Linked DNA regions of Homo sapiens. The protein of the gene in region 3 interacts with the protein of the main gene of each other region in a pairwise test. Each region holds a gene or a part of one and is shown on either strand. Other genes may lie near its edges.

Region 1 (2,883 bases), on a different chromosome or scaffold from region 3:
TAAATGAGTTAACATATTTAAAGTATCTTGTACACATTGTTAATTAAATGTTAGTTATTATTCCATAGCTGCTAATTTTTTAGGAACTGTCTAAAAGTTTCAACTGTTTTTAAAATCAAATTTAAAAAATAGGTTATAATCTCAGTATAGAAAGGCATGATATGGCTGGGCACAGTGGCTCGTGCCTGTAATCCCAGCACTTTGGGAAGCCGATGTGGGTAGACCACATGAGGTCAGGAGTTCAAGACCAGCCTAGCCAACATGGTGAAACCCCACCTCTACCAAAAATACAAAAATTAGCTGGGTGTGGTGGTGCATGCCTGTAGTCCCAGCTACTTGGGAGGCTGAGGCAGGAGAACCACTTGAATCTGGGAGATGGTGGTTGCAGTGAGCCAAGATCGTGCCAATGCACTCTAGCCTGGCCAACAGAGCAAGACTCTGTCTCAAAAACAAAAAAAGAAAAGAAAAGAAAGTCATGATCCAAGAGAAAATAGAACAAATAGGATGGAGCAATCCTTTATTTTTACACACTTTGACAAGGAGGTTTGTCGTAAACAACCTTTCCAGTGGAGAACAGAGAACAGGAAAATCAGCCTCCAGACATCAGCAGCTGCTCTGTTCAGGGCCGAGGCTCCCCCTTGCCAATGTGGTGAGGTGGAGGGGTGTACTTTCCTTCCTTTATCAGCTTATCCCGCTGCTTCCTGATGGTACCTGCACGTCTCATCTGTCAAAGGAAAATGGTAATTAAACTGAGGGAGGAGATATGTGCCAAAAAGTGAGAACTGGAAAAACAGATCAATTTTGGTTTCATTTTTAAACTACAAAAGGCCTTTCATCTTACGGGGCCTCTGAAATGAAGTCCGCCTTTAAAGAATTAACATGAAATCACTTCCCAAGCTTTCAAACAAATTTTTAGTATACATAACCTCTCTGAAAACTAACAACTAAAATGTTCTTAATATATATAGCAATATGGATATTTGCAAAAACCTTTAAGAGGCATATTTGTGGATACTAAAATCTTTTAAAATATCAAAAGTTTAATCCCAGCACTTTGGGAGGCTGAGGCGGGTGGATCACTGAGGTCAAGAGTTTAAGACCAGACTGGCCAACAAGGTAAAACCTTGTTTCTACTAAAAATACAAAAATTAGCCAGGGATGGTGGTGCACATCTGTAATCCCAGCTACTCGGGAGGCTGAGGCAGGAGAATTGCTTGAACTTGGGAGGCGGAGGTTGCAGTGAGCCAAGATTGAACTGCTGCACTCCAACCTGGGTGACAGAGTGAGACTTTGTCTCAATAAATAAATAAATAAAAGTTGGGCCGTGGTGGCTCACGCCTGTAATCCCAGCACTTTGGGAGGCCGAGGCGGGCGAATCACAAGGTCAGGAGTTCAAGACCAGCCTGGCCAATATGGTGAAACTCTGTCTCTACTAAAAATACAAAAATTAGCCAGGCGTGGTGGCGCGCGCCTGTGGTCCCAGCTACTCAGGAGGCTGAGGCAGGAGAATCGCTTGAACCCGGGAGGCGGAGGTTGCAGTGAGTTGAGATCGCGCTACTGTACTCCAGCCTGGGTGACAAAGTGGCACGATCTCAGCTCACTGCAACCTCCGCCTCCTGGGTTCGCGCCATTCTCCTGCCTCAGCCTCCCGAGTCGCTGGGACTACAGGCGCCCGCCACCACACCCGGCTAATTTTTTGTATTTTTAGTAGAGATGGGGTTTCACCATGTTAGCCAGGATGGTCTCGATCTCCTGACCTCGTGATCCGCCAGCCTCGGCCTCCCAAAGTGCTGGGATTACAGGCGTGAGCCACCGCACCCGGCAAGCACTTACATATTCTATGTGGAAGTGGCACTGCTGCTGGTGACTATGCAATGGGTATGAATGAAGCAGAAATAGCCAATATGAGTTCTCTTTTCCCCATATGGAAGTAAAGGCCTGATTCTTACTCAGCCACTAGTCACCGCTGAGTCTTGAATTCTGTCTCTTCTACTCAGGGCATTGGTTGCTTCTCAACAAATCAAAACTATGTTACACAAGTGTGTCAAAGCCACAACAATGAACTGGTCCCTGGATTCTGTGACACAGAAAATTTACTAAATCTGATCACATTATTCCTCTGCTCAAAACCCTGCAATGGCTATCTTACTGAGACAAAAAGATGAATCCTTATCATGGTTTACAAGGCCTACTCCAGTGACTTCATCTCTTAATATTCCCCTAGCTCCCTCCAGTCAGCTCAGGGACCTTTGCACTTGCTGTTTCCTCTGCATGGAACATTCTTCCCTCATAACCACATAGCTCACTTTCTTTAAGTCTCTGGTCTGTCTTCTTTTGCTGAGATCTTCTCTGACTATTTAAAGTAGCATCCACCTAGCTCCTGCCCCTAGCACTTTCTATCCTTCTGTTTATTCTCCTCACAGCACTTATTATCACCTGTATTTTTACTTGTTATTTTTCTGCTCTTCCTCCCACTATAGCATAAGCTCACTGACTCTGAGATTTTTTTTTTTTGCTGTTTTGCTTACTGTATTCCTAGTGCCTAGACTAGTTTCTGACATAATTTTTTTAACCAATGACTAACTTTTCACAAAGATACGAAAAATTAGTATATTCAGTTAAACGTCTCATTAACCTTAAAGAAGTAGTGTTGATATAACTTCAGTAGAAAAAACCCTGAAATAAACATTAACCATTTTAAAAGACTACATTCTTACCATTTATCTTAGAGTCTCCCAACACAAGACTAGTCATGGTTTTGAACTATGACAATACCATATGTCAAATCTTTCTCTGAGCTAAAAGCAGTAACTCTGGATAAAAGCATAGGTATTGAAGCCAGCCTTGCCAGGATAAAATCCCAGCTCCACCATTTACTAGCTA
Region 2 (4,115 bases), on a different chromosome or scaffold from region 3:
TCTAAGTAACAAAGCAACCTTCAGTATCTGAAAGCACAGCCTTTTATCTGCCTCCTGCGGAGCATCTTTGCAACCATGTTTCCCAAGGAGGGTGACAGCATTGTTGGTATCACAGTCGCCAAGGGTGAGGAACTCAGTGGCTGGGTTGAGAACCCTCAGAAGGCATTAGAAAAATGTGGAACATGTTTAAACAGTGAAGAAAGTAGGAGCAAAGCACTAACACTGCATTTTCCCAGGTAACCAGTCTACCCTGACTTTGGGAAGTACAAAGCACCCCCACACTGGGGGAACAATGTTCTAATAATATAGAATCAACATCGCCAGGACGGAATGGAATGTACTGCCTTTGCTTGGTATAATTTCCAGTCAATTCGGCCTACCCAGAAGTAATTAGTCTTCTCCCAAAAGTGTTTTCTGTCTAACTGGCTTATTTCATTCCTGGCGCGGGGGGGAGGGGAGCGCTCGCTTAATGAAATCTCTGCATTACTAGACGCTTTAATTTCCAGTTATCCTTGCACAAAAGTAAACATTAGGCTTCCTCACAGGGACACTTTTCACCGAGTTCAAATGCGCCCGATTTTCGGAGGGCGATATTCAGTATCTTTCTTGTCGTTACTAACTGGGTCGAGGAAGCAAAAGAAATTCAACCGTCTTCCAAATAAAGCCACGCTTCTTTTTACAACATTGTGTAGCTCTCCCCTTCCCACCCCTACTTTGTACCTGGAGAGAAAGAGAAGCACGCCTTTTGGGAGCAAGGAGAGCTTATCGATGAGCGTTATCAGAAACCCCCAGCAAAGGCTGGCTGGGTCACTAAAGGGGCAGGGTGGGCGCAGCGCTGCTACGACCGTGAGGCGCGCGTCTCGGAAACAGGCTGACTTGCCCCGGACGCGTCATCAGCTTCCCGAGGGTCTCTCCTCCCTGCCCTTTCCCCTTGAGCCGCCCCGCCTCATTCTCGGGAAGTTTCAGGAACTTCCAGGGGAGTTGCAAGTGCAATTTAAGCACAATTCCCAAGGTATTCAGGTTTTCTTACCAACGCGGAGATAGTGGGATTCAGCAAGTTTAAGAGGAAAAAAGAAAAAGAAAAAAAAAAAGGGCTGGTGTGAGAGGGATGGGAAATTAGATTGACAACTTTAATTAAATCAACCATTTGTTCTACCATTTGGCACCCAGCCCATCTCTCCTCCTATCCCTCCCACCCCGCACCCCGGGTTCCTTTGCAGTGACGAACTCGGACCTGAGTTCGATTTGACTTGTGAGGATTTGGGGGAAACGTCCCAAGACCGAGCTGGTTCGGGCAGCGAAGGCGCGGGAAGGATCCCGGCAGACGCTAAGATGGCAGGAGGCGCCCCGCGCCCGTCCGGCCCACGGCCTCCGCAAAGCTTTCATTTTTATTTGCTTTTCAGCATTCACTGGTGCAAATACTTCCACTGCAGGGTCACGTCAAGAATCTAAACTAATTATTTTAGTTTGTAGATTTACACAGAACAGAAAATCTTTACCGGGCACAAAAATGCATGGCTGCATTTCTGATGAACAGAATGGGTGTTACCAATAAAAGTATTTTAAAAATTGAACCCTTTTAAACAACGCATTAGCGTTATCTTTGCCCTAGGAGCTCCAACTCCAAAGAACTGCCCCAGAGTTCTGAATTCTGTTACAGGTTCGAGCAGAGGGAAGGTGCGGGGCGGCGGGTGTTGGCGGGGGGAGCTCCCAAAGCGCTGTTTAAGAAAGTTTTTTTCCTGCTCTTTCTAGGAGCTCCCGTTTTAGGAGACGGTTTTGGAAAAGTACCCTGGCATACACTCTTTTTTAAACGTCTGATCTCTAATGCTCTGTAACTAGCCACCACCCATTCAAGAGATTTCATCTCCTAAACTGCCAACGTGGTCGAGTAAAAGCTGTCTCTCCTGAGGGTCTCAAATCTTTCCATAGCGGTTGCTAACACAAAGTAACAATTTACTGTTGATTTTTAAAGCATAATATTAATACTCTTGAATTTTATACCTTTTTGTTTAATGGGGAAAATTCTAGGAAGGAACCACGTGGAAGTCAAGTAACCACGATGTTTTAACAAAGCACTTCGTCACAAAAGAAGTTGGCTTTGCAAAGCTATAGAACATCAATCAAGATTTCCATATGAAAAAAGCACTTTATTCTATGAAGTGTAGAATACTATAGGAAGCACGCTAAGCAAATTTGCACTTTGATTTTTCCGATGTAGTCAGTCAAATCCCCCAACCCAGGCGCCTAACCGCCCCCCCCCCACCCAACAAATGATAGCACCTAGACTATTACTGATTACAAAAAAAAAACAAAATAAAATGATACTCTAAAATGAAAAACCAAACATCCAGTAAACTAATCCTTTATTCTAATCGGAAAGGTTTGAACCTTTTCACCTGTTGCAATGTTAATAGAAACTTTTTTAACAGTCAAAATATATATTTGGTACAATAAATTTTAACTTTAAAACTATAGAAACACTTTCAAATCCATCAATCCATTTACAGTATCATAATTCAAAATTACATTTAACACATTTTAAAACTTTAGAAAAGTTTTACTTGTAGAAAAAGAAACTAATAGGTAACGTGTTCTCATTTTTTAAAAACTTACTCTTTTGCTTAAAAGTAGTGAAGTCACGCCAAGTGATTGAACTCCTTGGAGGATGAAGTAAAATGAAAAGGCAAGTTCAGGCACTCAGACCTGTCTATTTAAAGTTTAAAACTCCGCTGCTGTTTGGTACTTTCCTCACGCCTTCCCCCTAATGAAAGAAAAGTGCTGATACCTCGTAAAAGCTTTTTTGTAACTTGGAGCACAGAGCTTTTAAAAGTTTCAAGCCACTGACTCAACTGGGAGGAGGGGCTAGAAGAAAGGGGAGGGCAAAGGGAAAGGCTGGGAGGAGGTAGGGAGGAGGCTGGTAAATGTGGAAGGGCTGGGGGGAGAAGAGGCAAAGAGCAGCAGTGGGATCAGGATAAAGTTGTAGTTTAAATTTGCTGATGAGGAAAAATAAAAAAGCATTAGGGACATGAACGCCTCTACTTGGAGTTGCTCCTCACACATAAGAATCATTGATTACACTGCTTGCTTCACCAGAAGACCAGGGATAATGGGGGAAAAAGGTGTATATTTTTATTACAACATTGTCTAAAATTTTTAAAGTAGCTTACAATAAATAAAAATGGTGGGGAAGCATATAACCAGTTCAAGCTTGTTTCACATTGACCAAGGTGTGTGAAGTTAGAGGTAGGTGTGAGTGACCTGTTTGATGATCTAATTCCCTTCCTTTAAATGTAAGCAAGGACAATTAACAAAGGGAATGGTGGAGATGGGAGAGAGATTTCAAAAATTGACATAGATGAAGAAAAGTCCATACCCAATCCATCTTTCAACCCCTTGACTGCTTTGAATTTTTACTTTCTTTCAGTTTAGCAAAAGGCTGTGTGTGTATATACATTTTTTACATATATAGCATGTTTTGTTTGCCTATGAAATCTTGATATCTGACCTCTACCATGTCTCCAGAAAACTAAGAATTTATATTAAGGCCCTATTTATGCCAAGACACTAAAACCCAAATCTGTAGTGAAATGTGAGGATTTTAAAAATACAGACTATGGTTGCATTAAGTAGGTTCCCAAACTATTCAGCCCTCCTTAAAATCAGTTCCCCCTCTCAAGCCCACTAGAGAGTTTTCTGCCCAACGACAGTAAAGCTGAGCATATCATCTTTATGTGCTTCCCTATCCCCTTCCAAATGCTCTCCCTCTTCAGGGCTCTGCATTAGGGTTTATAATGGCCTGAGTCATGTGGCCTCAATCTTAGAGCAGGCAGCTCCTCTGAGGGCTTCCCAAATGCCATAACACAGTGTTGTGGTAGGACAATTCCTCATAAACAGGCTTCAGTGATGCTCCTGAGGTTGGACAGGAAATTTCTTGGCCAGTATTCTCTGGAGGGAAAGCAAACTCATCTGGCCTTCCTATTCCTAACACTTTTCTCACTCAGGCAAATACCAGAAAAAAGAAGGATGCCAAATATATTCTGGTAGACACCGTTCCCTAATTAAACTTTCACTGAAATGACTAATATAACATCTTTTGAAATGTTGCAGGTTTTTTT
Region 3 (5,235 bases):
GGTGCATGGGGCGGTGCCTGAGCATGAGGAGGCGGCAGTGGGGATCAGGAGGGAACGGGCTGAGCGTCCTCAGGAGGCAGGTGTCAAGAGGCACACTGACTGACTGGCCTAGGCAGGCTGAGAGGCAGGCGGATTAAGGATGTTTCCCAGGTTTCTGCTTGGGCAGCCAGGAAGAAGACAGCTGCTCCCCTCTCTGAGACAGAGGGGACACTGAGCTACACAGTGGTCTGTGGTTGGGGCAAATGCCCTGGATGGGTCAGGACAGGCCAGGTGACTCTGAGCTAACAACCACCCACAACTGATGTTTGCTGTGCCCAGTGCAGGTGGGCAGGGGGTTCTGTGCATCACAGTCACTTGCGGTCCAAGCCCATGGGGCCACCTCTTAATTCCAGCTTCCTTGCCTACTATGACAGGGAAAGAAACATGGCAACATGCGCACAGCTCTTAAGGCTTGTGCTGGAGGCGGAACACATCGCCCCTGCAGCCTGGCACTGGCCATGGGACATGGGAGGTAGGGGGAGGCGTGTTCCAGCCTATGTTGGCCGGTGGGCAGGTGCTCAGACTCAGCAAGCTCCTTGGGGTCATTCATCACCCCTCCACCCATTCATCCTCAAACACCTGCAGAGGGCTTCCTCTGCCAGGCTGTCAGGCGCCAAGGGCACAGAAATGAGAACTGACAGTCCACTGGGGGAGACGGTCTTCGCATGGTCTTGCCCTCAGTGTAAGGCACAAGAGTGGTGCAAGGGGGCCTAACCAGGCCCCCAGGGTAAATACGGGTTGCGGGGCTGTCTGGGGGAATGGGGAAGAAGAGCATTCTGGGCTGGGGGCTCCACAGGCTCAACACAGCTGGAGTGAGCCACAACAGTGAATCACGAGAAATGAGGCTGGAAAGGCCAGTGGGAACCATGGTCCTGGAGGTGGGCATTGGGTGGGGAGCTGTGCTTCAAGCTGAGGGCAGGATTTTCAGCACAGATGACTGTGTTCTGAAAGATCCCTGTGGGAAGAGTGAGGAGAGGGGTGAGCAGCAGCCAAGACTGGAGGCAGGAGGACCAAGCAGCGGGTTGTGGCCACGTTTCAGGTCTGGAGTCACCCAGGAGAGATTCTGATCATATGGGTCTATGGTGTGACGTGGGAGGTGGAAGTTTCCAGGACAACTCCCAGGCTCCTCAAAATAACAATTTTTTTTTTTTTTTGAGACAGAGTCTCGCTGTGTCACCCAGACTGGAGTGTAGTGGCGCGATCTTAGCTCACTGCAAGCTCCGCCTCCCAGGTTCACGCCATTCTCCTGCCTCAGCCTCTGGAGTAGCTGGGACTACAGGTGCCCGCCACCACGCCCAGATAATTTTTTTTTTTTTGTATTTTTTAGTAGAGATGGGGTTTCACCGTGTTAGCCAGGATGGTCTCAATCTCCTGACCTTGTGATCCACCCGCCTCAGCCTCCCAAAGTGCTGGGATTACAGGCGAGAGCCACCGCGCCTGGCCCAAAATAAGAATTTTTTTTTTTTTTTTGAGATGGAGTCTTGCTCTGTTGCCCAGGCTGGAGTGCAGTGGTGCGATCTCGGCTCACTGCAAGCTCCACCTCCCAGGTTCACGCCATTCTCCTGCCTCAGCCTCCCGAGTTGCTGGGACTACAGGCGCCCACCACCATGCCTGGCTAATTTTTTGTATTTTTAGTAGAGATGTGGTTTCACCATGTTAGCCAGGATGGTCTCGATCTCCTGACCCGTGATCTGCCCGCCTCGGCCTCCCAAAGTGCTGGGATTACAGGCGTGAGCCACCACACCTGGCCCAAAATAAGAATTTTTAATAGAATACCACGTATTAATTTCTCTGCTTCATGCAGACAAATGAAGAGAAAAAGTATTTCCAAGATTATAAGAACAAGTTTGGGCATTGTTTGTTTGAGACAGGGACTCCCTCTGTTGCCCGGGCTGGAGTACAGTGGTGTGATCACAGCTGACTGCAGCCTCAATCTTTTGGGTTCAAGTGATCCTCCTGCCTTAGCCTCCGAGTAATTGGAACTATAGGCATTAGCCATCGCACCTAGCTAATTTTTTTATTTTTTAAATTTTTTGTAGAGATGGGGGTCCCACTATGTTGTCCAGGCTGGTCTGGAACTCCTGGGGCCACTGCACAGCTATACTGTCTGACAAGCACACATGGCAATAACCAAACCAGACTGCCTGATGCAGACTGAGGGCAGTGCTTTCGAGGTCACACTCCTAGACCCTGGGCTGGAGCAAAGAGAAAAGGAGACAGTGGTTAAGGGACCTCACAAACAACCTACCACTTGACCCCACGATGCACACAAGGAAGGGGTGCAGGTGTCTGCACTCCCATGCAGACGTGCTCTCATTCAAACAATCAGAATTGGCTTTCTGGGAGGAAACATGCTGAGGGGGCAGCTGGGTTTTAAGCTTTTTGTTGTATCCTGGCTCTCACACAGCTGCCTCCACTCTGTCATCTGGTGTCTGAGTGCCTCACGCCTGCCTGAGGCAGTGCCCAGCTGATGGCAGTCCCCCAGCTCTAATGACCCTGTCCCATGGGTGTGACCACAGGGACTGTTGCTGTGCCAGGTCAGGTTGGCTGCAGGCACTTACATGCGCTTCCCACTCAATCCTTCAGCTACAGTGAAAGAGAGTGCCCGTAAGAACGGCCGCAGGTCTCCTGGGCTAGAAACACCCCCAGAAAGCAGCTTACCTCACCAGAAGCGTTTCACATTTGGAAATTAAGATAAGGAACACAGAACTGATTGTTTCCTTCCTTCCTTCCTTCCCTCCCTCCTTCCTCTTTTTTTTTTTTTTTTTTTTTGATACAAGGCCTGGCTCTATCACCCAGGCTGGAGTGCAGTGGCACGATCTCAGATCACTGTAACCTCTGCCTCCTGGGCTCAGGTCATCCTCCCACCTTAGCCTCCAGAGTAGCTGGGACTACAGGTGTGCACCACCATGCCTGGCTAATTTTTGTATTTTTTGTAGAGACACGGTTTTGCCATGTTGCCCAGGCTGGTCTGGAACTCCTGAGCTCAAGCGATACGTCTTCCTCAGCCTCCCAAAGTGCTGGATTATAGGGGTGAGCCACCAAGCAGAATAGTTTCTTTTTTCCTTTTCTTTTTTTTGAAACAGAATCTCATTCTATTGCCCAGGCTGGAGTGTAATGGTGCGATCTCGGCCACTGCAACATCCCCGTCCCAGGTTCAAGCAATTCTTGTGCCTCAGCCGCCTGAGTGGTTGGGATTACAGGCGCCCACCACCACACCCAGCTAATTTTTTTTTTTTTTTTTTTTTTTTGAGATGGAGTCTCGCTCTGTCTCCAGGCTGGAGTGCAGCGGTGTGATCTCGGCACACTGCAACTCCCACCTCCCAGGTTCAAGCGATACTCCTGCCTCAGCCTCCGGAGTAGCTGGGACTACAGGCACATGCCACCACGCCAAGCTAGTTTTTGTATTTTTAGTAGAGATGGGGCTTCACCATGTTGGCCAGGCTGGTCTCGATCTCTTGACCTCGTGATCCACCCGCCTCGGCCTCCCAAAGTACTGGGATTACAGGCGTGAGCCACTGTGACTGGCCTAATTTTTGTATTTTTAGAAGGGATGGGGTTTCACCATGTTAGCCAGGCTGCTCTTGAACTCTCGACCTCAGGTGATCCGCCTACCTCGGCCTCCCAAAGTGTTGGGATTACAGGTGTGAGTCACCGTGCCTTGCCCAGAACAAGTTTTAAGAACTTGTTTTCTTAAAACAAGCTTTTACTTCAATAGGAAAGTATTAAAGACAAAATAAAAGAAAAAAAAATTTATAAAATAAAACAAGCTTTATGGAGGCAGAACACACAAAGCTCTTTGTTGAAATATGCTCTGAATAATAAAAAGTAAATATTTAATAAAAGTTGCTGGTGCCTGTAATTCCAGCTTCTTGGGAGGCTGAGGAGGGAGGTTTGCTCAAGGCCCGGAGTTTGAGACCAGCCTGGGCAACACAGTTAGACCCCGGCGGGGGCAGGGGAGTGAGTTTCTGGGTGGCCTCTCACCCCAGGGTGCACCTTACAATGACCACGAGGTGCCAGGAACCAGGGTTGGTTTGGCATCCACACAGGGTCAAAAAAATTTAATGGATCTTTGTTCTCTGAAAGGGAACAGGAAGGTAAACACAGGCTGCCACTATTTTTGTTCAGTAACTGGAAAGGCTGCTCTCATTTGATCTCCAAATATTTTTTTAAAAAAACAAACAGTGCTTCAGAGTAAAACTTCTATTGATTTAAATTACAAAGGCATCCATTGCAGGGAGTCAGGGGACTGAACAATGCAGGTCTCTGGACCGGCTGCTGGCTGTGCCAGGGCCCCTACAAGGCGACCCAGCACTGACCTGTGGGGCTGCTGGAGGTCTCCAAAGGTGGCCGGAGTGCCTCTCTGCCAGGGGTGGTCACAAAAGGAAGTTGCCCTGACAACAGGCCAGGACACTGAAAGTTTGGAGATGGAACAAGCCAATGAGCCTCACCTGCCCCCACCAAGACTCACTGCCAGGAAATGCCCAGTCAGCAAGTAACTGACTGCCCAAGGGAAACGAGGCCCCTCTGCTCAAGTCTGGGGTGAGGCACAGGGTGTGCTCCTGACCAAAGAGTGGCTCAGGGGAGCCGTGGCCCTGGCTGCGCACCCCCAGGCACCCTCACACTCTCACTGGCAGCGGATGTGCCGGGGCTTGTCCACTCTGGCCCTGGCCTCTGGCTCCTTGGGCTGCCTGGCTCTCTGCCAGCTGCTCTGCCAACACAACCCTTGTCTCACTTGCTGCCACCTGGCTAGGACTCTCCCTCCACTGCAGCACAGCAACTTGGCAGTGCCCACTGCACCCCGAGGGCCACAGTGTGTCTCTATAACATCCCCAAACCACAACCCAGAATGTCCGACACTCAGACCTCTCTCGAGCTGTTTCTCTTTGGACTCTGAAAACAGCTGTTCTCTGTGGCTGTAAGGCCAAGTGATAGCCTAGGTTGGTCACTTAGAGCCACAGCCAGCTCCTCTAGGCCTAGGGATGCTGAGGGTGCCAGGCTTGGAATGCCTGGCTCCTGAGAGTCATCCCTCCCCTTGGCTCTCCTGCTGATAAATGGCTTCCTGAAATGACCTCAGAGGACGCTGCCCCTTTCACGTTAACCACAGGGCCCCTCCTCCCCACTGTGGCCTGGCAGAGGCCTTTGTAGGGTACTCTCACAAGGCATCCCTCAGTCAGGGGGAGGGGAAGTCGAAGC
Region 4 (3,500 bases), on a different chromosome or scaffold from region 3:
AAAAATCTAAACTTTTAATTTTATTTCTATTGCTATATTATGTGATATTAGAAGAAAGTTATTGCCATCACATGTGCTTACCTGTCCCCCATTTGAGAGTCCAAGTTTTTGACCAACTTGTCTGTTAATTTCAGCCACATTTTCACCTTGATCACTAAAATGCCTGCCTTCCACCCAGCTCAAGAATGCAGGCTGGTGACTCCAGACCACTTCTATAGCTTGATTCTATTCATATAAGAAATGAGAGGAAAAAAGGTTTTCGTATACATTTTTCTGGATTCACATGAAAATAAACTATTATTACAATTCACATGTCCAAAAAGAGTTCTATAGATAGTTCTCTGTTATCTACATTTGTTGTAGCATTTAAAAATCTATAATCATTTCCAACACCCAATGCTGGTGGATGCTAATGAAGCCAATACCCTTATATTCTTATGGCAGCATTATAAATTTAATCAACCCCTTCAGAATTCAAAATGGCAGCAGTCAGTCAATAAACTTAAATAGCAGTTGAGCCACATATAACTATTTGAGCATTTATTCCCAATTAACGATTCAAAGAAAAAAGAAACTATAGCAAAAGCTATCTGTGCAGTATTTTCTATGATAGTGAACACTTGAGACTGTCTTAAATGTCTATCAATAGGGAAATTATTAAATAAGATATAAATTTACTATTTTAACATATACGTTAATAAGTAGAAACACATATCATCTTTAAAAATGTAGCAATATAATTTTAGAATTATGAAACACCAACCAGATGGAGTATACAATCCATATTTATTTACTTATTTATTGGAAGAATAATAAATGCATGTGGCAAAAGCACAAAACGTACAAAAGGGTAAAATGTGAAGCCATGTCTCTGTTCTCAGAGGTAATTACTGCTGTTTCTTCTGTACCCTTCCAGAAACGTTATATTATGCAGCCTCTTAATAATTGTAAGGGCTCATATAACTATGGGAATATAGGTTTTAAAAAAGCAAAATATAACATTTATTCTCATTAAAAAAGCAATTACATTAAAACATGTAAGTTTGTGGCCAAGGACCAAAAAAGGGTTTTCTATGATTAAACAATTACAAACTCATTATAGAGACCTCGGAAAACATATAAACTTGGAAGGAAACAAATGAACTACTGATATTCTCTCCACAAACAAGACAACCATGTGAACAATTTGGTCTATTTCTTGTTAATCCTTTTCTCTATGTGCAAGTTTTTCATATAGTTGTGTTCATATAGGCACAATTTAATATCCTTTTCCACTACTTATATTGCATCATAAGCATTTTCGAACTTTTTTTTTTTTTGAGACAGGATTTTGCTCTGTTGCCCAGGCTGGAGTGCACTGGCACAATCATAGGTCACTGTAACTTGAAACTCCTGGGCTCTAGCAATCCTCTCACCTCAGTCTCCTGAGTAGCTGGGAATATAGGCATACACCACCACACCTAGCCATTTTTTTTTTCTATAGAGATGGGATCTCACTATGTTGCTTAGGCTGGTCTTAAGCTCCTGGTCTCAAGTGATCCTCCCACCTCGGCCTCCCAAACTGTCGGGATTACAGGCATGAGCCACCATGCCCAGCCACATATATCATTTTTAAAATAAAAATAATTTTATTAATATGTATCAATAATAAATTTTAAAAATCAGCCAGGTGTGGTGGCATACGCCTGTGGTCCCATCTACTCAGGAAGCCGAGGTGGGAGGATCACTTGAGTCAGGGAGGTTGAGGCTACAGTGAGCCATGATAGTGCCATTACACTCCAGTCTGGGCAACAGAGTGAGAACCCGTCACACACACAAAAAGACTTATTATATCAGGAAGCTTCAGTGTTATTAATTTATTTATATCAAAATAAATTCATTAAGTTAAAAATATTAGGCCAGGTGCAGTGGCTCACATGTGTAATCTTTATACTTTGGGAGACTGAGACAGGAGGATTGTTTGAGCCCAGAAGTTCAAAGCCAGCCTGGGCAACATGGCAAGATCTACATCTCTACAGAACAGTTTTCATAATTTAAAATATTAAATATCAAATTCATTCATTTACATGCAATTTTTTTTTTCCTGAGACAGGATCTCACTGTGTTGCCCAGGCTCGAGTACAGTGGCAAAATCACGGCTCACTGCAGCCTTAACCTCCTGGGCTCAAGTGATCTTCCCACCTCAGTCTCTCAAAGTGCTGGGATTACAGGCATGAGCCAACATGCCCAGTCTTTATGTTTCTTGCTTTTTTTTTTTTTTTTCTTGAGACGGAGACTCACTCTGTCACCCAGGCTGGAGGGCAGTGGCACAATCTCGGCTCACTGCAACCTCCACCTCCCAGATTCAAGCAATTCTCCTGCCTCAGCCTCCCAAGTAGCTGGGATTACAGGCCCCCACCAAATGCCCGGCTAATTTTTGTATTTTTAGTAGAGATGGGGTTTTACCATGTTGGCCAGGCTGGTCTCGAACTCCTGACCTCAGGTGATCTGCCTGCCTCAGCCTCCCAAAGTGCTGGGATTACAGGCGTGAGCCACCATAGCCAGCTTATGTTTCTTTAAATGAGACAAATTTCAAACAATGTTGGAGCCACTTCTGGGACAATATAACGTACTGGAAATTAACCATGTTATTACAATTTTATATTTAAGAAAGCCATCATCATGTATCACTTAGTTGTGTAATTTTTCTCACAATTTTCACAGAACAGTCCAACTGTTCTGGCTGACAAATTCTTTCAACTGAGTGTATTTTGCCTAGATTTGGAATCAAAAGTCTTAAGTTACCATATCAGCTGTAACCGTGTGAGCTATTACAAGAATGAAGGTGATCAAGCCCCAGATGCTTTCTATGGGTTTTCATCAGAGTCAGCAATACATAATCCAGATAAATTCTACTTCATATGAAGAAACTTAAGAGATGGAAATATGAAAGATGCCCTGAAATATCAAAAAAGGAAACTCTACCAGCTCACTGAAAAAAGGAAAAATGAACCTTATTGAGGAGGAAAAATACTTCTAATTATTTATTTGGTCAAAAAGTAGTAACCAGCTCCATAAAGCCACAATATGTGCTCAGTTATATTGAGCAAACTCTGCAGACCAATGTTCTAAGTTAATTTTTATGTCAAAATACTTCACTTGAACCACAGAGCCCTGGCTATTCAGGTAAAGAGAAGAAAGAGACAGCTAGAAAGGAGCGTCTTTTCCAGGAGTCAAATCAAATCAATCAATTAATTGACCTTCTTTGACCCAAACTGAGGTATCAGTATTACCAGGAAATCTGCAGGTAAAACCATACATCAGAATGCCTTAGGAATAATCAGGTCCAAAGCCTAGGGTATCTCTTGCTAACACAAGGGAAATGAAAATTGTGTGGCCATATCCGAATGGTGATTTAGGTTCGTTTGCATTCACTGTGTATATGAATCCTCTCCCCCTGCTGCAATCACATCAAGTTCTGAGTACAGAGAAGATAACTTAGTTGAAGCGGTGGTTCTCAA

Evidence for each region. The genes of interacting proteins can lie anywhere in the genome.
Region 1: the proteins of ARFGAP3 (region 3) and NDUFS5 interact in binary tests that used the Homo sapiens proteins (3 or more experiments, as listed by UniProt).
Region 2: the proteins of ARFGAP3 (region 3) and GJA1 interact in binary tests that used the Homo sapiens proteins (3 or more experiments, as listed by UniProt).
Region 4: the proteins of ARFGAP3 (region 3) and PEX1 interact in binary tests that used the Homo sapiens proteins (3 or more experiments, as listed by UniProt).

What each region holds. Positions count from the first base shown.
Region 1 is NC_000001.11:39,032,233-39,035,115, reverse strand, and holds the end of NDUFS5 (NADH dehydrogenase [ubiquinone] iron-sulfur protein 5), read right to left. Parts: intron 725-2,883; coding exon 620-724; 3' UTR 501-619; downstream 1-500. UniProt on the Homo sapiens protein: Accessory subunit of the mitochondrial membrane respiratory chain NADH dehydrogenase (Complex I), that is believed not to be involved in catalysis. Complex I functions in the transfer of electrons from NADH to the respiratory chain.
Region 2 is NC_000006.12:121,434,331-121,438,445, reverse strand, and holds the start of GJA1 (gap junction alpha-1 protein), read right to left. Parts: upstream 2,801-4,115; 5' UTR 2,614-2,800; intron 1-2,613. UniProt on the Homo sapiens protein: Gap junction protein that acts as a regulator of bladder capacity. A gap junction consists of a cluster of closely packed pairs of transmembrane channels, the connexons, through which materials of low MW diffuse from one cell to a neighboring cell.
Region 3 is NC_000022.11:42,801,111-42,806,345, forward strand, and holds part of ARFGAP3 (ADP-ribosylation factor GTPase-activating protein 3), read right to left. Parts: intron 1-5,235.
Region 4 is NC_000007.14:92,522,021-92,525,520, forward strand, and holds part of PEX1 (peroxisomal ATPase PEX1), read right to left. Parts: intron 226-3,500; coding exon 82-225; intron 1-81. UniProt on the Homo sapiens protein: Component of the PEX1-PEX6 AAA ATPase complex, a protein dislocase complex that mediates the ATP-dependent extraction of the PEX5 receptor from peroxisomal membranes, an essential step for PEX5 recycling.